7 linked regions of the Homo sapiens genome follow. The protein of the gene in region 4 purifies or fractionates together with the protein of the main gene of each other region. This does not show direct contact. Each region holds a gene or a part of one and is shown on either strand. Other genes may lie near its edges.

Evidence for each region.
Region 1: the proteins of PHF11 (region 4) and SDR16C5 purify together in Homo sapiens (affinity purification with mass spectrometry; one large-scale study listed by BioGRID and IntAct). This does not show direct contact.
Region 2: the proteins of PHF11 (region 4) and KNG1 purify together in Homo sapiens (affinity purification with mass spectrometry; one large-scale study listed by BioGRID and IntAct). This does not show direct contact.
Region 3: the proteins of PHF11 (region 4) and POF1B purify together in Homo sapiens (affinity purification with mass spectrometry; one large-scale study listed by BioGRID and IntAct). This does not show direct contact.
Region 5: the proteins of PHF11 (region 4) and APOA4 purify together in Homo sapiens (affinity purification with mass spectrometry; one large-scale study listed by BioGRID and IntAct). This does not show direct contact.
Region 6: the proteins of PHF11 (region 4) and HRG purify together in Homo sapiens (affinity purification with mass spectrometry; one large-scale study listed by BioGRID and IntAct). This does not show direct contact.
Region 7: the proteins of PHF11 (region 4) and CP purify together in Homo sapiens (affinity purification with mass spectrometry; one large-scale study listed by BioGRID and IntAct). This does not show direct contact.

The regions. Positions count from the first base shown.
Region 1 is NC_000008.11:56,310,176-56,313,675, forward strand, and holds part of SDR16C5 (epidermal retinol dehydrogenase 2), read right to left. Parts: intron 2,114-3,500; coding exon 1,982-2,113; intron 1-1,981. UniProt on the Homo sapiens protein: Oxidoreductase with strong preference for NAD. Active in both the oxidative and reductive directions. Oxidizes all-trans-retinol in all-trans-retinaldehyde.
Region 2 is NC_000003.12:186,716,101-186,720,158, reverse strand, and holds the start of KNG1 (kininogen-1 isoform 1 precursor), read right to left. Parts: upstream 2,801-4,058; 5' UTR 2,617-2,800; coding exon 2,422-2,616; intron 55-2,421; coding exon 1-54. UniProt on the Homo sapiens protein: Kininogens are inhibitors of thiol proteases.
Region 3 is NC_000023.11:85,282,166-85,285,665, forward strand, and holds part of POF1B (protein POF1B), read right to left. Parts: intron 153-3,500; coding exon 38-152; coding exon of another isoform or gene 14-37; exon of another isoform or gene 1-13. UniProt on the Homo sapiens protein: Plays a key role in the organization of epithelial monolayers by regulating the actin cytoskeleton. May be involved in ovary development.
Region 4 is NC_000013.11:49,519,953-49,523,452, reverse strand, and holds part of PHF11 (PHD finger protein 11), read right to left. Parts: intron 2,560-3,500; coding exon 2,513-2,559; intron 1,411-2,512; coding exon 1,346-1,410; intron 279-1,345; coding exon 212-278; intron 1-211. Other genes in the region: SETDB2-PHF11 protein, read right to left, coding at 212-278, 1,346-1,410, 2,513-2,559. UniProt on the Homo sapiens protein: Positive regulator of Th1-type cytokine gene expression.
Region 5 is NC_000011.10:116,820,505-116,824,437, forward strand, and holds APOA4 (apolipoprotein A-IV precursor), read right to left. Parts: upstream 2,801-3,933; 5' UTR 2,688-2,800; coding exon 2,639-2,687; intron 2,282-2,638; coding exon 2,155-2,281; intron 1,378-2,154; coding exon 363-1,377; 3' UTR 196-362; downstream 1-195. UniProt on the Homo sapiens protein: May have a role in chylomicrons and VLDL secretion and catabolism. Required for efficient activation of lipoprotein lipase by ApoC-II; potent activator of LCAT. Apoa-IV is a major component of HDL and chylomicrons.
Region 6 is NC_000003.12:186,669,014-186,672,513, forward strand, and holds part of HRG (histidine-rich glycoprotein precursor), read left to right. Parts: coding exon 1-38; intron 39-924; coding exon 925-1,015; intron 1,016-2,609; coding exon 2,610-2,776; intron 2,777-3,500. UniProt on the Homo sapiens protein: Plasma glycoprotein that binds a number of ligands such as heme, heparin, heparan sulfate, thrombospondin, plasminogen, and divalent metal ions. Binds heparin and heparin/glycosaminoglycans in a zinc-dependent manner.
Region 7 is NC_000003.12:149,176,830-149,180,329, forward strand, and holds part of CP (ceruloplasmin precursor), read right to left. Parts: intron 2,834-3,500; coding exon 2,727-2,833; intron 1,803-2,726; coding exon 1,586-1,802; intron 1,151-1,585; coding exon 1,011-1,150; intron 1-1,010. UniProt on the Homo sapiens protein: Multifunctional blue, copper-binding (6-7 atoms per molecule) glycoprotein. It has ferroxidase activity oxidizing Fe(2+) to Fe(3+) without releasing radical oxygen species. It is involved in iron transport across the cell membrane.

The sequences.
Region 1 (3,500 bases), on a different chromosome or scaffold from region 4:
GGAGGAGGAAGGAGGAGGAGGAAGGAGGAGGAGGAGGAAGGAGGAGGAGGAGGAAGGAGGAGGAGGAGGAAGGAGGAGGAGGAGGAAGGAGGAGGAGGAGGAAGGAGGAGGAGGAGGAAGGAGGAGGAGGAGGAAGGAGGAGGAGGAAGGAGGAGGAGGAGGAAGGAGGAAGAGGAAGAAGAAGAAAAGAAGAAAAGAGAGAGACAGACACCATGAAGGCACCTGGGGAAAAACAGAGAGGTAGGAAAAGAACACAAAGCCAGGCCAAGCGCAGTGGCTCACACCTGTAATCCAAGCACTTTGGGAGGCTGAGGCGGGCGGATCACAAGGTCAAGAGATGGAGACCAGCCTGGCCAACATGGCAAAACCCTGTCTCTACTAAAAGTACAAAAATTAGCTGGGTGTGGTGGCGTGCGCCCATAGTCCCAGATACCTGGGAGGCTGAGGTAGGAGAATTGCTTGAACCCGGGAGGTGGAGGTTGCAGTGAGCCGAGATCGCGCCACTGCACTCCAGCCTGGCGGCAAAGTGATACTCTATCTCAAAAAAAAAAAAAAGAAAAAGAACACAAAGCCATGGGAGTGGAGACTTCCAGGGACCATGGTCTTTATCTTCATTCTGACTATATATGAGTATAAGCAAGCACCAAGGAGAGGGACATTTGGGACAAGATAAATCATTTGCAGTAGTTCTTGTAGGAACATGGTAGCCACTAAATTCTGAATCTTTCCATTTTTCTCCTGAAAACTTTACAAAACACCAAGAATAGCACCAGCACCATTACATTTTTGGTGGAAATAGGGGACAGAAAATCTACAAATTCCAAATTACATTTGAAGGCTGCTAAAGAAGACTTGGGTGGAAAGGTGTGAGGAGAATGGAGGAGGAGCTCAGAAATCTCCAGCAAAGACTCCCAAGAGAGAGCCTTGCCCAGGAATGACGAGCTACGAGCAGGGCTGGAACCAAACAGGTCAAAAGTCCTGTGATCCCAGCACTGTGGGAGGCCAAGGCAGGCGGAACACTTGAGGCCAGGAGTTCAAGACCAGCTTGGCCAATGTGGTGAAACCCTGTCTCTACTAAAAACACAAAAAATTAGTTGGGTGTGGTGGCGCGCACCTGTAATCCCAGCTACTCAGGTGGCTGAGGCACGAGAATCGCTTGAATCCGGGAGGTTGGAGGTTGCAGTGAGCTGAGATCACACCACTGAACTCCAGCCTGGGAGACAGAATGAGACTCTGTCTCAAAAAATTAAAATAAAATGATAAAGTAAAATAAAAATACAACTTTTAATAAAAGCTGGGAGAGGCAGCAAGAGGGTGCATGCATAGTGTGGGGAGGCCTGAGATGGCTGGTCTCAGCAAAGGCCAGAAACATGCAACTTCTGGAATTGAGTGGGTGGCTTTAGAAGTCAGGACTGTGCTTTTAGCGCTGGTAGCAGGTGGTAACCTGGGTTACCAGTGGAACCTCTAATTTCTCTGGTTGGGTACTAACTAAGGTGACTATAGGTTTTGGTTTGCCCATAACAGACCTGATTAACACTTGCTCATTAATAATGCTGAATTTCACTTCCAAAAGTGTCCCAGCTTAGGCAAATTACAAAGCTACCCTGGTCCTGTCTAAGTGCAGTTGCTCGCTATGTAGCCTGGAGCAAATCTTTTAAGTTCTATGATCCCTTATCTCACCGAGCTGTTTTAAGGAAAATATGTGAGCCACCTGGAGTATTTCCTAACATTTGCAGCTAATCAATACATGGTAGCAGGACCATGAGGACAGTTCTGTCCTTGTAGAATTCCCTAAGCAGAGGTCCTGGGGGCTGTAGATTAAGTGGCATCAGAAAAGGACAACTGTGTAGAACAGGACAAGTCCAAAACTGAGAAGTCTCTGCTTTACTTAGAGGCTAATAATATTGTAAAAGAGCAAGAGGAAAATACTTCCAAATGCCAGAATAATTTTACATTTATGATGAGAAGAAACAATTATTACCCATAAATGTGCTTTGAAATTCACATCAAATGACTTTTCCATAAGCTCATCTGGACAGTCAAGGAACTTTTTGCCTGTTACGATTCCGGCATTGTTGATTAGGATGGAAACATCGCCGACTTCTTTTTTAACCTGAATTGAATAAGAGCAACACCACCAATGTAGTAATTCCTTACATGGGCTAGGTTTTATTTTCCCAGAGTTTTATGTTTTTTTTATCCTGGTTAATTCATACTGAGTTTATGCACTCTAAAAATACAGCTTGGGGCCAGGCGCAGTGGCTCACACCTGTAATCCCAGCACTCTGGCAGGCCGAGGCAGGGGGGTGACTTGAGGACAGGAGTTTGAGACCAGCCTGGCCAACATGGCAAAATCCTGTCTCTATTAAAATTACAAAAATTAGCCAGGCATGGTGATGCGTGCCTCTAGCCCCAGCTACTCGGGAGGCTGAGGCAGGAGAATTGCTTAAACCAGGGAGGTGGAGGTTGTAGTGAGCCAAGATCACACCACTGCACTCCAGCCTGGGTGACAGAGTGAGACTGCATCTAAAAAAATAAATAAAGAAATAAATACAGGTTGGTTTATTTCCATTGCTGAGTCTACAATGCACCACACACCAAGTTTTTTTTTTTTTTTTTGAGATGGAGTCTTGCTCTGTCGACCAGGCTGGAGTGCAGTGGCACGATCTTGGCTCACTGCAAGCTCCGCCTCCTGGGTTCCCACCATTCTCCCGCCTCAGCCTCCCAAGTAGCTAGGACTACAGGTGCCCACCACCACACCCGGCTAATTTTTTGTATTTTTAGTAGAGACAGGTTTTCACCGTGTTAGCCAGGATGGTCTCGATCTCCTGACCTCATGATCCACCCGTCTTGGCCTCCCAAAGTGTTGGGATTACAGGCATGAGCCACTGCGCCTGACCTCCAGAGATCAAGTTTTGATGTGCTTTTCCCATTTTTCTCTTCTTAAAATGAGTCCATGTTCAAAATGCTACTTTCTGTTTACAGTTAGAGCTGTTCTTCTACTCAGTGGTTAGTAACTTTGTTCTGTGCTCTGTATGTGGCATTTCATTTTAATCAATATGATGGGACATAAGAATAGCTTCATTATAGCCAAATGTGACATAGATCAAGACCTCACACACGGAGAAGGGGCTGGATTAGGGAATAAATAGAGGAAAAGAGAAAGTACAGTCATAAATCACTTAACAATGGAGATACATTCTGAGAAGTGCATTGTTAGGTGACTTGGTTGCTATGTGAAGATCACAGAGTGTACTTAATAAACCTAGATGTGTGGCTACTACACATCTTAGGCCATATGGTAGAGCCTATTGCTCCTAGGCTACCCACCTGTACAGTGTGTTACTATACTGAACACTGTAGGCAACTGTTAACACATTGGTTAAGTATTTGTGTATCTAATCATAGAACATTGGGACAGTAAAAATACTGTAATAATCTGTCCCATAATGTGGGACCACCATTTTGTATATGGTCCATCACTGACCAAAATGTCATTA
Region 2 (4,058 bases), on a different chromosome or scaffold from region 4:
ACAATCCCCCTCCTTGATTTCGTACTTGAAGGAATAAAACGTGTCAGAGCCAACCTGAAAAGCAGCCAAAGATACTTAGGGTTCATCCAACTGACCCAACAGCAAATAATTCTAGTGGGTTCCGGTAAAGTTAGGAATATTGATCTTTGACTTGAGAGCAAAGCATTCACTTAAAATATATTTATATTTCTATCATAAACATTTATGTGAAAGAATGTTTATAATATATTCACAATGTACTTTTAAAGGTTACAAAGCAGTATGCATAGTATTAGCCCATTTTTGTCAAAACTGGTTTATATATAAATCTATGTCTTTTAAAAGTCTGGAAAGATACACAGCAAGCTGTTAAAATGTTTGTCTGTCAGTGGTGAGATTATAATTATCTTTCACTTTCTTCTTCAAGCAAACATTTCTTTTTTTTTTTTTTGAGATGGAGTCTCGCTCTGTCGCCCAGGCTGGAGTGCAGTGGCGTGATCTCGGCTCACTGCAAGCTCTGCCTCCCGGGTTCACGCCATTCTCCTGCCTCAGCCTCCAGAGTAGCTGGGACTACAGGCGCCCTCCACCACGCCTGGCTACTTTTTTGTATTTTTTAGTAGAGACTGAGTTTCACCATGGTCTCGATCTCCTGACTTCGTGATCCCCCCGCCTTGGCCTCCCAAAGTGCTGGGATTACAGGCATGAGCCACCGCGCCCGGCCCAAGCAAACATTTCTAAGTGGTCTTTTTCCCCTAATGAACGTATATGACTTTTACAAATTAGAAAAAGCAAACAAGAAAACCTTAAACAAATGTTAACAGTTATCTCTGTATGGTGGAATTAATTATGGGTGATTTTAGTACTTTTATTTGGTTTATTTTGTTTCCTACTTTTTCTTTTTTAAACAGCTTTATTGAGATATAATTTACATGCCATAAAATTTACCCACTAAAGGCATACAATTTAATGTTTTTTAGTATATTTACAACCATACCCACAATCTATTGGGTACCACACCACCAATAAACTGTTGCTTGAGATCACCATGAAGCAGAATTTCTCACATGACTGTACTAGATTATGAAAGAAAATGGCTCGATTTTACTTTCAGAAAAAATAACATGTCCACTGTGTTTATTTTCCTTTATCCCCATGTTGTCACATGGCTAGTTTTTTTTTTTCTGCTAAAGTAACCAATTGCTTGACATTCCCAGAGATATAGTCTTTTATAGTGAAATTTGTTTAAACATACTCTTGAAAGATTGGTATTTCTTTGAACCATGCATCCTGCCAGGATTTGTCTCCTGCTGGAGTGCATCATTGCAATAATATCAAAAACTAACTAAAACGTTGCTGTTAAACCCAGTACATTCAGCCATACAGACTTCTGTCTAATTCCGTAGAATCACATTAACCTCATTCCTCACTCCTCTTAGACATGCCCCATGAAGTACCCCCTCCCATTAAAGGTTTGGAGTTCTATAGTTTTTAGCCTAGGGCCAGAGACCCAGTGAATTCTTTTGCTGCAGTCTAACTAAATTCCTAAATTCTCCCTCTCTACTTGGTCCTGTTGAGATTTCTCCATCTACTTTTGTTTCATTTCACCCTAGATTCTACTTCTCTGATCATCCAGGAAGCCAACCTGCCTGAGGACGAGTCATACTCTGTCCTCCCACCCCAGGCCAGAGAGTGGTATCTGTCTTTCCACAAGTTGTAAGCTTCTACCTTTGATGATCACATATTTGGTAGTGCGTGATGGTGGTGGGTGGTGGGTGGCGGTGGTGGTGGGTGGTGAGGGGTGGTAGTGGTGGTGGGTGGTGGTGGGTGGTGGTGGTGGTGGGTGGTGGGTGGTGGTGGGTGGTGGTGGTGGTGGGTGGTGGGTGGTAGGTGGTGGGTGATGGTGGTGGGTGGTGGGTGGTGGGTGGTGGTGGGTGGTGGGTGATGGTGGTGGGTGGTGGGTGGTGGTGGTTGGGTGGTGGTGGTGGATGGTGGTGGTGGTGGGTGATGGTGGTGGGTGGTGGGTGGCGGTGGTGGTGGGTGGTGAGGGGTGGTAGTGGTGGTGGGTGGTGGTTGGTGGTGGTGGATGGTGGTGGTTGGTGGTGGTGGGTGGTGGGTGGTGGGTGATGGTGGTGGGTGATGGTGGCGAGTGGTGGTGGGTGGTGGGTGATGGTGGTGGGTGGTGGTGGGTGATGATGGTGGGTGGTGGTGGGTGGTGGGTGGTGGGTGATGGTGGTGGGTGGTGGTGGGTGGTGGGTGGTGGTGGATGGTGGTGGTGGTGGTGGGTGGTGGTGGTGGTTGTGGTGGTGGTGGTGGGTGATGGTGGTGGGTGGTGGGTGGTGGTGGTGGGTGCTGGTGGTGGTATGTGTGTGTGTGTGTGAGGCCTGGACTCCTAGTGATAGTACAAATCCCAAGTGACTTCAAGGTTAAACACAATTCACTCACCGTCTTAGTGGCTTCAGTTATGCGGTACAATACAAACTGGTTGTTACTTTGGTTTTGACTGTTATATTTCTTCAGAGCAGCATCCACAGCTTTAAATAAATCCTTGTCATTGCAGTCAATTTCCTCGGACTGTGATTCCTGGGTTAAACTTAGTAGCAGCCTGGAGCAGAGGAAAAGGATGGTAATTAGTTTCATGATCTAACAATCTCCCTCTAGGAGCTGAGGGATGGTTTCACCAAGAATCAAGAGCCAACTGGGATACTGAATTTGACAATCTCCAGCCTCTTGTTTCTTCTGTCCTCCTCTCTGCCTCAGAACTCAGGGCACTGGTTGGATTCCTGCTGCCAGACGCTAGTTGCCTTGTTCCCAAAGGTTAAATGGCTCTGCTGGGTTATCCAAACATATTTACAGCTAGAACATTGCAACACTGGGGTTGTTAACCTGCTCATTTGCATTTGAAAATCACGTGGCAGCACAGTGCATATTTCCAGGTGATTATACAACTTTATGTAGCAAATCAGAGCAGAATCTGATGAAGGAGGGGAAACAAGTGCCTACTAACTCGGTTATTCCCCTGTGACTTTTGCAAAGCCATTTTTGAAGGTCACTACATGGGTAAACAATGCAAGAATGAGTACAATGTGCAGACACATTTCATACAAAGTTTCTTTGCAGGATACCTACCTGCATAGAAGCAGACTGCTGTTAATTCTATTACATGCCTAAGAAGCTCATGCACAGGGGCATCCAGTGAGTTCCAGGAGTCCCATGCAGGACATTGGCACAACTGAAAATAAAATATGGGCGTCCTATCTGCTCTCTGGACAGGCCAGCCTTTCTCTGCTCAGTTGCATTAGTTCTGTAAAAGAAAATTGCTCCCAGGGTGGAGATAGAGGAAAAGCATAGGAAGGGATGGGTTGAGTGAAGCCCTGGATTCCCTATGCTTGCTTCTTTCTGGTTTGGTGTTGTTGGTTTGGCACAGAAAAAGATAGCCCCAAATATGGCTCTTTGGCATGCCGAGTACTTTGAACTGAAAGACATTAAAAAGGCTGCAAAAGCAAAGTCTCTTTCTTGCTTTCTCCTGCCCGTCTTTCTCCTGCTCCACTTCTCTCAAGGCAGGCCACAGAAGCTAGAATTTCTCTTCCCCAAGGCGGGTCATAGAACCCTTCTCCCTCAAAGCCAGCAATAAAACTTTATTATTCTTATTTTCCTCACATCAACACAGAGTGGGGAAACTATATTACAGAATGGTCCCCACCTGTAGACCAACATTGGAAAACTACAGTTGATAATCTCAGCAGAAGTGTGAGGCTTGATGGTATCAACATCCTTACTCCAGTAAAAATTGGCCAGGCACGGTGGCTCACACCTGTAATCCCAGCACTTTGGGAGGCTGAGATGGGTGGATCACCTGAGGTCGGGAGTTCGAGACCAGCCTGACCAACATGGAGAAACCCCATCTCCACTAAAAATACAAAATTAGCCGGGCGTAGTGGCACATGCCTGTAATCCTAGTTGCTCGGGAAGCTGAGGCAGGAGAATTGCTGGAACCCGGGAGGTGGAGATTGCAGTGAGCTGAGATTGCGCCATTGCAATCCAGCCTGGGCAACAAGAGCAAAACTCTGTCCAAAAAAAAA
Region 3 (3,500 bases), on a different chromosome or scaffold from region 4:
CGTCAAAATAGGGCTAAAAATGCCCAAGTGAACTTACACAAGTGTATTTGTCTTCTGTTTTCTCAATCACAATAGTCTGTGTTTCACTACCTGGTGGTATATATTCGTAGTCATCATATAGGAGGCCTAGGATTGGATATTGTGTCCTGTACCTGTTGGCAAGAAAAGAGTTAGTTTACAGGCTGCATGAGAAAATAACTTTCATTCCTTTTTAGTCACTCCTAGTTTGATTGCCCTAATTAAGCCAATTCGGCTCTGAATGACTTTTTAACTGTTACTGAAAAAACAAAAAAATAAAAAAACCCTATTTCAATGGACAGAGATGTACAACCATTATTTTCAAGAAAATAAAATAGAGGGACTTCTGTTTCTGGCCATGATGGACGACTGGCAGCACAGGACAGTGACCCCAGAAAAGGGAAGCAAATGATATGGGCCCTACAAGTGCCTAGCTCACTGCCTGGAGAGATTTTCTTGGTCACGGGATAAGTAAAAGGAAGCTAAACAGATCCCAGCAGTCTCACCAAGATAAGGTGATAAAGTTTAGAGTAAATATAGGCAAAGGCACCCAGAGTTTGTGGGGCAGAGTATCAGACAGAAGAGAGCTACATAGATAGAGAGAGGTCAGGACAGCTGTAGAGGTTTTCCCAAAAGCCTTTGGGTGAAAACTGATCAGTGTGCCTGTATGTGAAGAAGCTACCAAGACTTAGGAAATAATGACTAGAAAGGAGCAGGCTGGCAATTTTGGGAGCTCTCATAGGGATGGTAATGTTTTGTGTTCCACTAACAAAACCAGAGTGAAAAGCTCTCCTGATATAGAGGCCATCAGATAGATACTGCAGAATATTGCCTTAGTAGTGGGATAAAATTAGCCTCAAAGTACAGGTTATTCTCAAAGAGTTTAAAAGCAAGGCTTGGATGTATTAAATTGTTTCCAAATAATTTCATCTCAGAACAAAACTCCAAATATTTTAAGTAATACCCTAGCGAAAATCTAAAACTCAACAATATAAAATCACAATTCATGGCATTCAACGAAAAATGAATAGTCATGCAATGGACGATACGACTAATAATGAAGAGAAATATAAATTAGTAGAAACAGACCAAGAGACAACACTGATAAAAAAATTAGTAGGTAAATGTGCATCTATTAGAAACATATAAAATATACAAGGTATATTCAAGAAGTTAGAGGAAAGCATGAACACAGGAGAGAAATAGATAATATAAAAAAGATCCACATTGGACTACTAAACATTAAAAAAATTAGGTGGAGTTAACAGCAGATTAGGCACTGCATTACAAAAAGACCGATAAATTTTAATACATCAAAATAAATAATTTAAAATAAAACATAAAAGAAAACGGAAAAAAATGAATGCAGCATGAAATAACTGTGGAAAATATCAAATGTCCTCATATATATATAATTAAAGTCCTGCAGGATTGGTGGTGGAAAAAAATAATTGACATAATGACCAAATTATTTCCAAGCATGATGTAAAGCTATAAACACACGTATCCAAGAAGCTCAGTGAACGTGAAAAAAAGAAACATGAAGAAAACTACAGAGAGGCACATCATTATCAAATTCTTGAAAACCAGTGAAAGAGAATCTTAAAAACAGCCTCAGAGAAGAAAGGACATTATTCAAAGAACAAAAATCATAAGATTAACAAAAAACTTCTCAGTCACAATGAAAGTCAGAAGACAGAAGAGCAATATTGTTAAAGTACTTTTTTAAAAAAAATGTAAAAAATCTCCTTAAGCTGATAAGCAACTTCAGCAAAGTCTCAGGATACAAAATCAATGTGCAAAAATCACAAGCATTCCTATACACCAATAACAGACAAACAGAGAGCCAAATCACGAGTGAACTCCCATTCACAATTGCTTCAAAGAGAATAAAATACCTAGGAATCCAACTTACAAGAGATGTGAAGGACCTCTTCAAGAACTACAAACAACTGCTCAAGGAAATAAAAGAGAACACAAACAAATGGAAGAACAGTCCATGCTCATGGGTAGGAAGAATCAATATCGTGAAAATGGCCATACTGCCCAAGGTAATTTATAGATTCAATGCCATCCCCATCAAGCTACCAATGACTTTTTTCACAGAATTGGAAAAAATTACTTTAAAGTTCATATGGAACCAAAAAAGAGCCCACATTACCAAGAAAAACCTAAGCCAAAAGAAAAAAGCCGGAGGCATCACGCTACCTGACTTCAAACTATACTACAATGCTACAGTAACCAAAACAGCATGGTACTGGTACCAAAACAGAAATATAGACCAATGGAACAGAACAGAGCCCTCAGAAATAATACCACACATCTACAATCACCTGATCTTTGACAAATCTGACAAAAACAATAAATGGGGAAAGGATTCCCTTTTTAATAAATGGTGCTGGGAAAACTGGCTAGCCATATGTAGAAAGCTGAAACTGGATCCCTTCCTTACACCTTATACAAAAATTAATTCAAGATGGATTAAAGACTTAAATGTTAGACCTAAAACCATAAAAACCCTAGAAGAAAACCTAGGCAATACCATTCAGGACATAGGCGTGGGCAAAGACTTCATGACTAAAACACCAAAAGCAATGGCAACAAAAGCCAAAATTGACAGATGGGATCTAATTAAACTCAAGAGCTTCTGCACAGCAAAAGAAACTACTATCAGAGTGAACAGGCAACCTACAGAATGGGAGAAAATTTTTACAATCTACCCATCTGACAAAGGGCTAATATACAGAATCTACAAAGAACTCAAACAAATTTACAAGAAAAAATCAAACATCCCCATCAAAAAGTGGGCAAAGGATATGAACAGACACTTCTCAAAAGAAGACATTTATGCAGCCAACAGACACATGAAAAAAATGCTCACCATCACTGGCCATCAGAGAAATGCAAATTAAAACCACAGTGATCTCAGGCCACTTAGAATGGCGATCATTAAAAAGTCAGGAAACAACAGGTGCTGGAGAGGATGTGGAGAAATAGGAATACTTTTACACCGTTGGCAGGACTGTAAACTAGTTCAGCCATTGTGGAAGACAGTGTGGCGATCCCTCAAGGATCTAGAACTAGAAATACCATTTGACCCAGCCATCCCATTACTGGGTATATACCCAACGGATTATAAATCATGCTGCTATAAAGACGTATGCACACGTATGTTTATTGTGGCACTATTCACAACAGCAAAGACTTGGAACCAACCCAAATGTCCATCAATGATAGACTGGATTAAGAAAATGTGGCACATATACACCATGGAATACTATGCAGCCATAAAAAAGGATGAGTTCACGTCCTTTGTAGGGACATGGATGAAGCTGGAAACCATAATTCTGAGCAAACTACCGCAAGGACAGAAAACCAAACACCACATGTTCTCACTCATAGGTGGGAATTGAACAATGAGAACACTTGGACACAGGTTGGGGAAGATCACACACTGGGGCCTGTCGTGGGGTGGGGGGAGG
Region 4 (3,500 bases):
TACTGAATGCAATGGACCATTCCAACCTAAGTTATCTTGATATGCTGGGATTACAATAGAGTGGACAGTTGCGATAAAGATTTATACTCATTAATTACCACAAGCCTAGAAGAATAAAGATTTAGGCGGGATACCAAGTTTGAAACAGGTGGGTTGACATTTTTATAAGTATTGTAGGCCATATTTGTTACAGACAACACTTAGCGCAAACCTGTGTGTCTGCCATGCTCTTCTTTCACTTGTCTTATGAATGTATTACATTTCATTGTTTCGGGTGGCTAGGAGAGAAAATCAAGATTGCATTACATTGATTTTAATATTGCATAAAATGAAAACCAGTCTTTTGCTGTGCATAACTAAATGATATGCCTACAGTAAAAATCATGCCCTGGCTGGGCGCGGTGTCTCACGCCTGTAATCTCAGCACTTTGGGAGGGCAAGATGGGCAGATCACAAGGTCAGGAGTTCGAGACCAGCCTGGACAACAGGGTGAAACCTTGTTGCTACTAAAAATACAAAAATTAGCCAGGCGTGGTGGTGCATGCCTGTAATCCCAGCTACTCAGGAGGCTGGGGCAGGAGAATCACTTGAATCCAGGAGGCAGAGGTTGCAGTGAGCTTAGATCACACCATTGCACTCCATCCTGGGTGACAGAGAGAGACTCTGTCTCAAAAAAAAAAAAAAACAAAAAAACCCCATATTCATATTTAGATGTAAACATCAAATATATTTTTGTTTTGTATTATAAAACATTAAGAGGTGTTTGACAAGCACCCCTTGTATAAACAGGAGGAGGTGAAGGTTGCTGGCGCATATGAATTTAGCTTATATGTGCTGATGTGTAAAAACTCAAATCCCCAAAATATTTTCATACATTTTATACATAATCCAGAAATTTATAAGAGCTACAGATTTGGTCAGGTGTGGGTCATGCAGCTGGGAAATACTTGGCTCCATAAGGATGTTTGACTGCACCCTCTGCCCGTTTTAACTGTAAGCACCTGTGGGGTCAGATGCTCTCACTAGTTTGGTGCCAGGGAATTTATAGGAGCTCGGAGAATGTCACCTCCTGAAGGTTATGTGCTTGGAACTTCCAGCTTCATTTTCATGCTCATCTCATCATGATTCTATCATCTAGGAATTATCTAAGAGCTTCCCGACTATGGGATTCTTCCTAAAAAGGCAACCTCAGGAGCAGCCTTAGCTGAGAACACAAATGAAGAATGTTCTTCAAAGGCTCTCTGTTTGGACGATTTGGAAAGTACCTTTCACCTGACATTCAGACTGGTTTAAATAAGGACTCTGTATGAAGAAATGCAAAGCTATAAAAACTAAGTCAAATTACCTGTACATGATTGCCTGAGAGGGGTTTCTTCCTTCCTCTTTTTCTTTTCACTCCTGAAAATTTAGCTAAAAATATAAACCATTTAAAAATTGGAATCCATAAAGGAAAAGATTACTGTTTGACTACATGAAATATACAACTCATATGCCAAAAGTTTTTACAAAGTCAAAAGATATGGCAAACTTCAACTAAGTGTTTGCAGCACTTATGATAAAGGGTTAATTTTTAAAAAAGATATTATAAGTTTAATGCAAAACAGGTAAATAATTGAGTAGAAAAATTGGCACATGGGGAACTCTCTGGGGAGAGGGTTCATTGAATAGAAAAATGAACAAATTGGGTCATAGGAAAACAAATATAATTGGTGAAAAGATATGGGAATGCACTCAATTTCACTCAGAAGATATTCAAAGTAAAACAGACTAATAAGGATGAAGATATTTAATAGATGACATTTGCAAGGATTTGGTTAAGTGTGTATTGCTGGTGCTTTTCCCTGTCAATAAACACTGATTTAAAGAAGTATCTGTAATAGCCTTTCCTGCTGAGTTAAAAGGGTAACGACTGAAAAATGATTGTAGAGGTGCTATTTGGAGAATGTTATCACCATAAAATGCAGTTGGCATGACGCAGAACGAAGTCTTCCAACGAGGTCCTGACTCCACTTCACAATGAACATTGCAGATGTAGTGCTGCTAAGACACTGCTGTTCCACTCATGAATGAAAGTATACCCCATGACTCCAGTTAGCCAGGATCCAGTCTGCCTTAATTAGAACTGAAATGCTAACCATGCATCCTTAGGGAATTTTCACTCAGGGAAGGTGCAGCACTTTTAAAATTTTATCTACTGAAAATTCTTATGGAAGAGAAGCAGTCCCAAAAGTCAAGGCTTTTTCCCATGTCTTAGTTTGGTTCTGTGAGCGTAGGGAGAATGAAAGATACCAGGGAATGGTTCAAAGAGAATAGGTCTTGTTCATAAAGAAGAAAAAATTAGTCAGTCATATCACATAGTACACAAAGAAGTTGTCAATTTTCTAGATGTGTAAAATTTTAACTCAAACATTTGTATTTTAATTCAACGAGGCTAGAAAATTAGACTATTCCTTATGTTACATAAATGTTTACCTTTCTTTAAAACCCACAGTGCTAAATTTTAGAAACTTACCACTTTGAGCGATGATCGGGAATTGAGCATGTTGCTGGCAAAGCAGTCTGAAATATTTAATTTCAAAGAATTGTAAAATATTTTTATTTACAGGTTTCAAATATTATGTCTATTTTTGTGATTAAAAACGTACCAACCTACTTTTCATGACGGCGTCACACTAAAGTTTTTTTTTTTGAAGCCCTGTGTAAAATTAGTGACCCACACTGAGTGCAGATGGAGACTCAGTTAGATGTCTTTTATGCCCTCAGGGACTTAGGAAGATGATTATGTTCTTTCAAGGAATGAGTACTGATGAAGTATTATGAACAATACTAGTTCATATACAGTGGTCAGTGAGATTTTACTGTATAAAGATACCTAAAGATCCACAATCTAAGACATGCAGATTTCCATCTGACTGTACAAGATTCTGCTGGTTTTCAACAATAAATAGCACAAAATTGCAAGCATTAATTTAAGGAAAAAGTCATTTTCGATGAAAACAGGTATTTGCCCCAGATCTTAGATTTGACCTACAAAGGGCCTAGAACTGATTAGTATCTTCCAAGAGAAAGCAGCAGCATAGCAGGCTATGATGAAGAAATGAAGTGAGGCCGGGCACGGTGGCTCATGCCTGTAATCCCAGCATTTTGGGAGGCCGAGGCGGGCAGATCACGAGGTCAAGAGATGGAGACCCTCCTGGCCAACATGGTGAAACCCCGCCTCTACTAAAAATACAAAAATTAGCTGGGCATGGTGGCACGTGCCTGTAGACCCAGCTACTCAGGAGGCTGAGGCAGGAGAATCGCTTGAACCCAGGAGGCTGGAAGTTGCAGTGAGCTGAGATCGCACCATTGCAGTCCAGCCTGGGCCACAGAGCAAGACTCTGTCTTAAAACAAAACAAAACAAAAGAAATGAAGTGAATCGTTTTATAGAGCTGCTCAGGCCACTTTCTAACCTTTCCTCCTCCTCGGCACCCAGCTTCATCTCCCTTCCTCTTCAGAT
Region 5 (3,933 bases), on a different chromosome or scaffold from region 4:
AATGTGTGACATCTTTTTCTGCCTCCCCTTAGAGGACTCCCCATGTACTCGCCTCCAGTCCACCAGGCCCTTACCTCTCCTGCAGTCTCATCTCCCCAATCCTGGGTGTCTCCTGCCAGGCCGCTGCTAAGCTCTGCCCAGTCATGGTTACCTCCCCACCTCCCCAGCTGCAAGGAGGATTCATCCGGCAACCAGTTGAGGCTAGATTCTCAGCAGCTTTATTGAATATTGAGAGGTGGTCTCACCTCCCACTGGACATGTGTCCTCAAGTTCATACCAGAACTTCTTTGGGACAGACAGACAGACAGGTGGCAGGGCAGGGCAGGTGTCCACGAGGGTGGGGCCAGTGCACCAGGGGCAGCTCAGCTCTCCAAAGGGGCCAGCATCTGCACCTGCTCCTGCTGCTGCTCCTGCTGCTGTTCCTGCTGTTGCTCCAGCTCAGGGAGGGAGAGAGTCTTGTCCTGGCTCTCTTTCTCCTTGAAGGTGCTGAAGAAGGAGTTGACCTTGTCCCTCAGGTCCTTCTCCAGGAAGCTCAAGTGGCCTTCCACGTCCCCCGCATGGGGGCCCAGTTTCTGCCTGAGCTGTTCCATCTGCTGCACCAGGGCTTTGTTGAAGTTTTCCCCGTAGGGCTCCACCCGGCGTCGGAACTCCTCCACCTGCTGGTCCAGGTGCCCACCCAGCTCTGCCAGTGACTTCTGCAGCCCCTCGGTGTTGCCCCTCAGGTTGCCACGCACGTCCTCGGCCAAGGGCGCCAGCCTCTGCCGCAGCTCCTCGGCACTGGCCGAGATCCTGGCCTTGAGCTCCTCGGCGTTCTTCTTCATCTGGAAGGTCAGGCCCTCAAGCTGGTGGTTGAGCTTCTCCTGCGTGTCCTGAGCATAGGGAGCCAGGCTGCGGCGCAGCTCCTCCACGGTCTGGTCAATCTTGACTTTGAATTCGTCAGCGTAGGGCGTAAGGCGTCCCTTGAGCTCCTCCACGTTCTGGTCGATCTTGGCCTTGAGCTCGTCGGCGTGGGGCCTCAGCGAGGCCTGCAGGCTGTCGGCGTTCTCCCGCAGCACTCTCTCCATGCGCTGTGCGTAGGGGGTCAGCTGGCGCCGCAGCTGCTCGGCCTGCGTGCTGACCTGGGTGCGCAGCTGGTCCGCGTAGGGCTCCAGGCGCTGCTGAAGCTCTCGCAGGTTGTCCCCGATCTTCTGGCTCACCTCATTGGCATGGGGCAGCAGCCGGGCCCTCAGCTCCTCCAGCTCCTTCCCAATCTCCTCCTTCAGTTTCTCCGAGTCCTTGGCCAGGCGTTCATGCAGCTCGGTGGCAAAGGGCACCAGCTTCTTCTGCAGGTCACCTGCGTAAGTGTTCACTTCTCCAAGTTTGTCCTGGAAGAGGGCACTGTGGGGAAGGGCACAAGGAGGCCACGTTACATTTGGCATTTACACGGCAAGACTTTGTCTGCTTGTATACCACTCGCCTTATGCACACGTGCTAGGACAGGTGAGTGCTCAGAGGTACCGAGTTCACCCTCCCTATGGTGGTGCAGATTGGAGAGGATGGGTGTCACAGACTAAGTTACGATGCTGAATTTCTATCTCAGGATCTCCCACATAGTTTGTCTCAGAATCTACCCACCATGTCACCTCCAGCAGTTTGCTTTCCCCTCCTTGTCTGCAGAGGGTGGGACTTTGAGGTCCTTCCCAGAGGGAGTGTTCTGGGCCATAGGATCACATTGTGTAACACAATGTTGTCTTCTTGACCTCTGCTGGGGTCTTCCAGTGGCACAAGGTGCTGCTTTCCTTGCCTGTGCCCAGGGGCCTCCCAAATATTCCCACCTCCCTCCCCTTGATTCCACTGGGGCCTGTCTTTCTGAAACGTATTAGAAATCAGCTCACGTGACATTTTCCTCCCTCCCTCTCTTCCATGAGCCTGAATGATAGGATGTGGCCATTTGTCAAACTCTAGAACGTCAAAGCAAAAGGACATGGCAGGGATTATTCGGTCCAAACTTCCGGTTTACATATGTGGATCCTAGGTTCAGAGGCCCGGCCAGTTAGTGGCAGGGCAGTGGGTATCCTAAGCTCAGGGCTCCTGTCTCTAAGCTCAACCCTTGCCAGTACATTGCATGGCCTTTAAGAATTCCCCGTCACCACCGCACACTGTAGTCCCTCTTACTTGAGTTGCTGGGTGAGTTCAGATTTCTGGAGATGTTCCACGGCCTCCTTGGCATTGTTGCTCAGCTGGCTGAAGTAGTCCCACATCACCGTGGCCACCTGGTCAGCACTGACCTCAGCCCTGGCTCCTGGGTGGTAACAGAGAGCAATTCATGAGGCCCCGTCTCCTGTGTGGCCCCTCTGCTCCAGCTCTGAGCTGCAGACTGGATGATGGTGGGGGTGCCTCAACCTGCCATTTTCCCTGTCTGAGCTTAGCTTTTTGGAAGCCACAGGGATATGTGAAACTGGTATAGCACCAATGCCAATGGGCCCACCACTGGGACTGGGCCAGCTCTCCTGTGAGCCACTTGGCAGCCAGGCAGACCTCATGTCCAGCTGGGGGCTGATGGGCACTCAGAAGTGTCCTTTTGCTTTGGCTCAGCCTCCATCCTGCACTACTCAGAGCAGCAGCCCAGGAGTGCCATCCAAAGACAGCTTCTACTCACCGGCGACAGCCACCAGGGCCAGGGTCAGGACCACGGCCTTCAGGAACATCCTGAGCTGCTTGCTGGGCTGGAGGAGTTTCTTGCCACACTGGATCCTCCCTACAATCAGGGGAGCTGACAGAGAGGTCCTCAGGAGAGCTCACCTGCGCTGCAGTGGGAACTGACTGAAGCTCAGAGCCAGCCAGACATTTAAACTCTCTCCCTATCGCCACCCCCCTGGCTGCCCTCCCCTCCTCCTTCCTCAGTGTGACTCCACGCTGGAAGGTGACACATTCCCAAGAGGCCTCTTGGACTTTTGTGACCCTGAGACTACGTGGAAGCTGACAGCAGATCAGGGCTCAGGCGATAGTTAGAAGTGGTGGCTGTTCCGTGCGTGGGCACCCCCACCCCCACCCCACCAACCTCAGCATGGAAGGGAGGAGGGGAACGGAAAACAGTAGGAGAAACACCTCAGGGAGCCCATGAGCCCGGGACTGATGCCTCGAGGCCCTGCTGGCGGCTCTGGGTTTGTGCCGGGCTCATGGGGGGCAAAGTCCACATCTCCTCTGTCTACCCCAGTGAAGACAGGTCCCCCCAGTCTCCACATCCGCCACTAATGCTGACTCCATCTCAGAGCACCAGACACTGGAGTGGGACCATCCAGGACTGCAGACAGCATAGTGAGCTAAAATCTAGGTCTCTTGTCAAGGTACACCCAAGAGGAGGGGGCCCTGGAGAGCCTTTGGGCAGATGGGTGTGGGAGACAGGGCCTTGTCCTGAAAGGGTTAATTGTAGAGTGCTTCATGTCCCACTCCCATGCTGTGCCTCCTTGGTCTAGTTATTCAAAGCCCTGAGCTTCAGTTTCTCCTCTGAACAATGGGATGGTTCAGTACATTAAAGAAGACATTGCTTGCGAAGTGGGTAGTACGGTCATCTCTCAGTCTCCATGGGAAATTGATTCCAGGACCCTCTGCAGATACCAAAATCCATGGATGTTCAAGTCCTTGATATAAAATGGCATAGTATTTGCATATAACCTAAGCACAGCCTCCCACATACTTTAAATCTCTAGATTACTTATAATACCTAATACGACGGAAATGCTGTGTGAATGGTTGTTATACTGTATTGTTTAGGAGGTAATCACCAAAAAAGTCTGTATATGTTTAGTACAGGTGCAATTTTTTTTTTTTTTGAGATGGAGTCTTACTCTGTCACCCAGGCTGGAGTGCAGTGGCACGATCTTAGCTCACTGCAATCTCTGCCCCCCAGGTTCAAGTGATTCTCCTGCCTCAGCCTCCTGAGTAGCTGGGATT
Region 6 (3,500 bases), on a different chromosome or scaffold from region 4:
ACTGTGAGCCACCTGATTCCAGACGTCCATCTGAAATAGTAAGTAAAGAGGGCACCTTCACTCTGCTCTTTTCATTCTTATTTTCCATCTACTCTGTTCACTCAGCCAATGCCTGGGCTAACACAGTAGAAGAGAAAGGGCAGCTTTTGCCTTGAGATTCATGAAGATGATGTTAACCTTGAGCAATACTCTTGAGAGTCTTTCCTGGGAACCCAGTTCAAGACAACTCAGCAGGGTGTGTGGTCCCATCAAAGAGCATAACCAGCTGTGGGTCCTTGGGTAAATCATCTAATAACATCCCTCCACTTTGGTGTTTTTTGACTGTAAAATAAGAAGTGGGTTTAGGAATTCATGGACTCTAAGGGCCTTCCACTCTTGACAGTCTACAGGTATCAGAATCTATGAACTTGTAATTGTGTCCTATGAACAATGGTCCTATTTTCAGGAATGGCCAAAGTAATTACTTGCAGTGAGGAATTGGGTCTTGCTCAGCACCTAGGATATACACTGAGGAATAAGATCTGGCTTTGCATGTGGGAGGTGGGTATTGACATGCCAGGCTCTCTGACACAGGTGGAGAACATGAAGATGAATAAGCAGAGATTCAAGATTTCATTTCCAGAAAATGAGAGGTTCACACTCCTGGAACTTTCACCACTTTTTCCCTTGAAAATGTTTGGGGTATGGCCATGATGCTTTAAATAGTTTCTCGCTGGTTCTCCTGAGGATTTTGAGTGCCAACAGGATGCAGCACACAGAAACTGACTAAGAAAATGCAGGGTTTGAGACAAGCTTTGATGAAAGAAATGCATTTTTAAATGAACAGTAGGAGGATGTTGCATCACCTTTTTGCTCTTTCATATCTGACCTGAGGAAGGCAGGATGCAATGACTCAGCAAGTCCTCAAGAGCCTCTTTCTTACAGGTGATCGGACAATGTAAGGTAATAGCTACAAGACATTCCCATGAATCTCAGGACCTCAGAGTGATTGACTTTAACTGCACCACAAGTTCTGGTATGGTAATCTGTTAAATTGCTAATTAATTCTTGATTAATACAAATTCAATCATACAGTGGTATTTGTCTCATCTATGTACATATGTATTCATATATATTCAGATGTATTCATGTATATCTATGATGTACATGAAAGAAAAGCCTTCATAGACTCCATTATTATTCATTCTCCAGAGAATAGAATTGAGACAAATTTCCCTGGTACTGGTACACCTTCTTTTAAAGAAATTCAACACATAAAAATAGAGATTTAGGAGAGGTAGGTTAGCCTCATTATAGATATAGGCTTTGGAGTCAGGCTTGCTTTAGCTTGAGTCATCATCTGCCAGTTGTATAGTCTTGGGAGGAAGTAAAGTCTTGGGACTATGAAGTAAAGGTTATGACACTTTCTATTTAAGACAAAATAATTGATGCTCAAAGAAGTTAAATGACTTGGCCTCAAGAACAAAGCCAAGATATTGTGAAGATGTGACACAATCCCAGGAGTATTAACTCTAAATTCCACAGCTTTTTTATTTATTTATTTTTATTTTTGAGACAGAGTGTCGCTCTTGCTACCCAGGCTGGAGTGCAATAGTGTGATCTCGGGTCACTGCAACCTCCACCTCCCGGGTTCAAGCAATTCTCCTGTCTCAGCCTCCCAAGTAGCTAGGATTACAGGCATATGCCACCACATCCAACAAATTTTGTATTTTTAGTAGAGATGGAGTTTCTCCATGTTGGTCAGGCTGGCCTCAAACTCTTGACCTCAGGTGATCTGCCCACCTTGACCTCCCAAAGTGCTGGGATTACAGGTGTGAGCCACCACGCCCAGCCTCCATACCCTTTTAATTTACATTTTCAAATAGAATTATCACAGGATTCCTTTTTAAAATAGCAAATCCAAATATGATATTATATACAAAAATGCAAGATACTGCCACAGGAGTTTGCATTGAAGAAAGGATGATCTGTATCTTCTCCTCTCTCTGGGCAAAACTCTATGTTAATGCTCTGTCTTCCCCCTTGGCAACAACAGGAAGAACTTATTAAAATATTAGTGGCCTGGTGCGGTGGCTCACATCTATAATCCCAGCACTTTGGGAGGTTGAGGCCAGAGGGTTGCTTGAGCCCAGGAGTTTGAGACTAGCCTGGGCAATGTGACTCAACCCCATCTCTATTATTTAATATATATGTTAATATATATATCATATTAATACCTAAATATATGATTATATAATATAAAAACATATGATATATTATATAATATATAAATATATAATAGATATTATATAATAGATAATATATATTTATATATTAACGAATGTCATAGTTGTCATATTTATATATATATGTTAGCACTTTATCAGTGGTACTGGTGAAGGCATCATGAGTAGGGGTCACAACATAGACATGGGGATCAGAAAGACTCGAAGGAAGAATCAGCAGTTTAGTTCGGTTGCCAAATGGCTGATTGATCTTGAAGCAGTTACTCAGCTCTTCCCACCCTCAATTTGCCCATCCTTAAAATGAAAGTTATTGTCATTCTTGCCACCAAGCCACCATTAACATTTCCAGCCCTTTACTGTGACACTGCTATCTTCTTTCTCCAGTCTCTTCAGCACTGGCCAATACCAAAGATAGTCCGGTCCTCATAGATTTCTTTGAGGATACTGAGCGCTACAGAAAACAAGCCAACAAAGCCCTTGAGAAGTACAAAGAGGAGAATGATGACTTTGCCTCTTTCAGAGTGGACCGAATCGAGAGAGTTGCAAGAGTGGTGAGTCTCCACTAAGGTTCGGTTGGAGTCTGAAGGCCCAGGCTCCAACCTGGCAGCAGGAACTGAATGGCATACCCTCTCCACCTGCCTCAATTGACTAGCTGCCTTTTAATTTGTCACTTTTGAGGCCATAAAAGACAGGCAGCAGGTATTTAAAAAATACAAAAAAATTGCTTTCCTCAAACACTTTTTTTTTTTTTTGAAGGATGGGTAGGGGAGTAGACATCTGACAGAGTAGGGAGAAAATCTAAAGAGGAAACAGGGAAAGACAAGAACATATGAGGGTTGTGTCATTGCAAATCATCCAATACTAACATTCTTGTACTATGATGGAAAACTGAAGTTCAGAGAAATTACCTCACCACACCCAGTAATGTGCCTATAGTTAGATGGTTCCCTGCTCTCTCTACAAGGACCCAAGTACTTTCACCCAGAGCTGTCTTGTAGAGCAACTGGTTGACATTTGCTATGCATTCAGAAAATGCAGCGTTAAATAGATTGTGTTGCATACAAGTAAGGAAATGAGTACCATGCAGTTGCTCAAAGAATGTTTGGACCCATGCGCACTGGAGTTTGAAAACATATTGGTATAGGAAAATGCAGGTTATAGAACAGTACTTAGACTATGGACCCATTTATATGAAACACTTAGATCTCCCTGTGTATGTGTAACACATCTAGGAAAACACTCGAAGAGGAAACACATCAAATAAATGAGAATGAA
Region 7 (3,500 bases), on a different chromosome or scaffold from region 4:
GAGGCTGATGAAAACGACAAAAACCAGAGGCACTTCAGGGAGTCTCGGCTGGAAACAGTAGTTGGGTGACAATAGTCTATTTCTGCAAGGATAGAATTGAAAGCCCACTAAGAATACAATATATCTATGTAAAACAAAATGCAGGTAACAAAACAGGCTTTCTGCAGTATGCTTTTTGATAACTTCTGCCTTTTCTAAATTAGCCCAAAGCATAAGGAAAAAGCATTTCCAGGAGGGCCACTGGCTTCTGCTGAAATCAGTACTGAGAAAGAATAGAAGTAAGATTGAGATGTACAGACCAGTTGCTTGTCACCTAACTGATCTTGCTCACCATGGGCCATTTAAGATACAGAACTTAGAACAGGCAGGGCAAGGGTTATAATAAAGTCTTGTTGTGGTCTCTACTCTCATCCATCATTATGTGAACATTCCTACCCTCTTTGTTAGCAATTCCGCTCAGTTGCCTTAATCAGGAATCTGAGCAGAACTCCATGAAAATTCAGTTAAAAATGCAAATCCTAGGAAGAGCTCAATGTGTAACAAAGGCTAGTGTGTCAATTGAAATTGCTGTGCCTTATATAGGCATCCCTCAGTATCTATGGAGGATTGGTTTCAGGAATGCCCCCATACCAAAATCCATGGATGCTCAAGTCCCTTATATAAAATGGCATATTTCCATTTAACTTATGCACATCCTTCCATATACTTTAAATCATCTCTAGATTATTATAATACCTAATACAGTGCCTACATATCATTTCATTTGCATGGATTCAACATAGTACTCAGTGCAGCAGATCCAAGTTTTGCTTTTTGGAACTTAGTGGAATTATTTTTTCCTGAATATTTTCAATCCATGATTGAATCCTGGGTGGGGAATCCACGGATATGAAGCACCGGCTGTACTCTTTGCAGCTTTTTTTCATAAGTCTCTCTGAGAAAATATTTTCTTCACTTGTATTAAAACATTTTCAAACAGAGCAAGAGTAATTGCCATGGATAGCTCTTACCTTGTATTGGAAGCTATGGCCGTGAAAATGTACAGTGTGTAAGTCTATTTCATTGCCCATTCCCATCAGATACCAGTTGACTTCATCTCCCACGTGCATTGTGAGGCCTTGTAGGTTTCCAAACATTCTTCCATTAATAGCTAGGGAAAGCATATGGTTTTATGTTACTTTTCAGGATATTTTAAACCAATAGCTATTTCAAAGAAAATATGATTATTAGGTTAATGTAAAGAATCTTTTTGATGTAATAGGACTTATTTTACTACAAATGAGAGAAATGGATACTTTAAAGTCAATAATATCACATTGCTTTTCTAGGCACTTTGCACCAAAAGCCTTAATCTTAGTTTTGGATTATTTCAAAGGAAATGAGATTTTGGAATTGGAAAATAAATTAGCAAATGATTTTGAACATAGTCCCCTTTTTGTTTTGAACAGGATTCTACCTGACATACAAAGTGAGGCAGAAGTGGTTTATTTTAAGACAAAACAAATGAATGGTCTCCAAAATAATTTTATTTGAAAGAGAAAATGATAAAAAAGTAGAAAAATTGTTTTAGAATAATGTGACATACCATGCATTTTATTGCTTTCTATGAATTCCTCATCATCTTTGTTTACTTTCTCGGGGTGATCAGAGTATGTTTTGATGTTGTCATCTAAGTACCAAGATTCATTCTCATCAAAAACTAGAAACAGAAGGGCAAATTCCAGTTTCCTTCTGGGATTGAATACTTTCAAGTAAGGTCTTCGACAAACAATCAGGGGGCCAATTAATCCACTGTAGAGGTCCTGGAAACAAGAAAAATCTTCAGTAACCCTTGTGAATTAGGTCAGGATTTCAGAGAACTGAGACTTTGCACCCAGGGCCTCAGGAATTTTGGAGAGACCAATTGAAGTAACAGACTTTGCCCAATGTGGTACTGCCAATTTAGTAACTTTTCACTTGAAGTAGTTAAATTGGAACAATGGTGAGTAGTAGGTAGGTCATGTGGGTGATGCTGACATAACAGAAATGTCTGCAGAGGCAAAAATTAGCTCAGCTAATGAGCAGTGATTTTAAAAGAATCCCAAATGAACAGTGTTGGTTTGTTCCATAAACTCATGAACTCTTGAGTGTGAGCCAAGCGCTATGGCAGTCCCTAAAAATCCATAGATGAATGAAATGTGTAATAATAAATAGGACCACAAATACCAGATTTACTCATTTGTTTGAGCCAGAACACTGAATTATCAAGGAGCTACTTCCCCCGGCTCACTCAGGCACTTCACCCACCTATCTATAACCGACTCCATTTCTTTTCTCCCTCCTTACAGTAGAGGTCCTTGAAATTTGCCTCACGTATTACAACGGCCTCCCAACCTCCAGTCTCTTCCCCCTCCAAGCCTTCCTTCATTCCACCAGAATGAAGGATCTGAAATGCAAATATACTGCCATTCTTGGTCAATTTTTCAGTGGCTACCTGTGACCCACAAGACAAAAATCTAAACTTCCCAAATATCTTGAAAGGCCTTTGAGCTGTATCATATTAGGAAATGTTAGATTTTTGTCTTGTGTGTCATAGGTAGCAGCATAGTTGCTAAAGTAGATTGCAAACAGTTTATTTTCCTAGGATTTTAACGTAGAATTGGACCACAGGAAAACACTAACCTTGTCTTCCTTCAATTGTGTGTCTATTTTGGGAAGTGTCACAAAACAAATGATTTGTATTTTACCTTAACTTGATCCACAGTTGAATAATAAGCCCATGGAATACAAGCAGAATCCTCTGTTCCAGCTCCAGATCTTTCTGGGATTTTCCATACGTAAGTGAGAGTTTCACCTAAATTCATCAAGTGTTAATGGATCTGGTTGTATTTGGTTTATATTGTACACACACACACACACACACACACACACACACACACACAGCCTTGATAACTAGGACCCAGGAACTGGAAATGTCAGTGTAATTAGTTTTTAAAAATTGTGGTACTCAAGATTGTTTTCAGGAATTTAGTTTTAAGATGAACTGGAAGACAAAATTTTGTCATTTTTTGGGTTAATTTTAAATTAGCTATAACCCACTTGCCATACCACAAAGCTAGGAGGTGTGTACTTCAATATTACAATTTGAAAAAACTTTGCAACCAATCTCTTCTTAGCTTGAAGTGTGTTTTCCTAATATACTTTTTTCTCTTCAGATACCAAGTGATTTTTCCCCAGTGGCTGGCACCTTTCCCGTAATCTCTGCATGTGTGTATCTGGACTATTTTGTGTAATTCCCTCAGCTTCAGCATTGGCTTCCTTTCCTTGTCCTCTCTCATGATCATCCTTAGTGAGCTCATGATTCCTGGCGAGGAGCCGTTAGACCTCTTGATCTCATGAGTCACCGACTTGACACAGTTATGTTTACCTCCCCCTCCAGTCCATCTCATTCTATCACACCATGTGCTGTTTTGTCACTACTCCCACATACAGGACATAACCACACCCTCGGCCTTGGCATT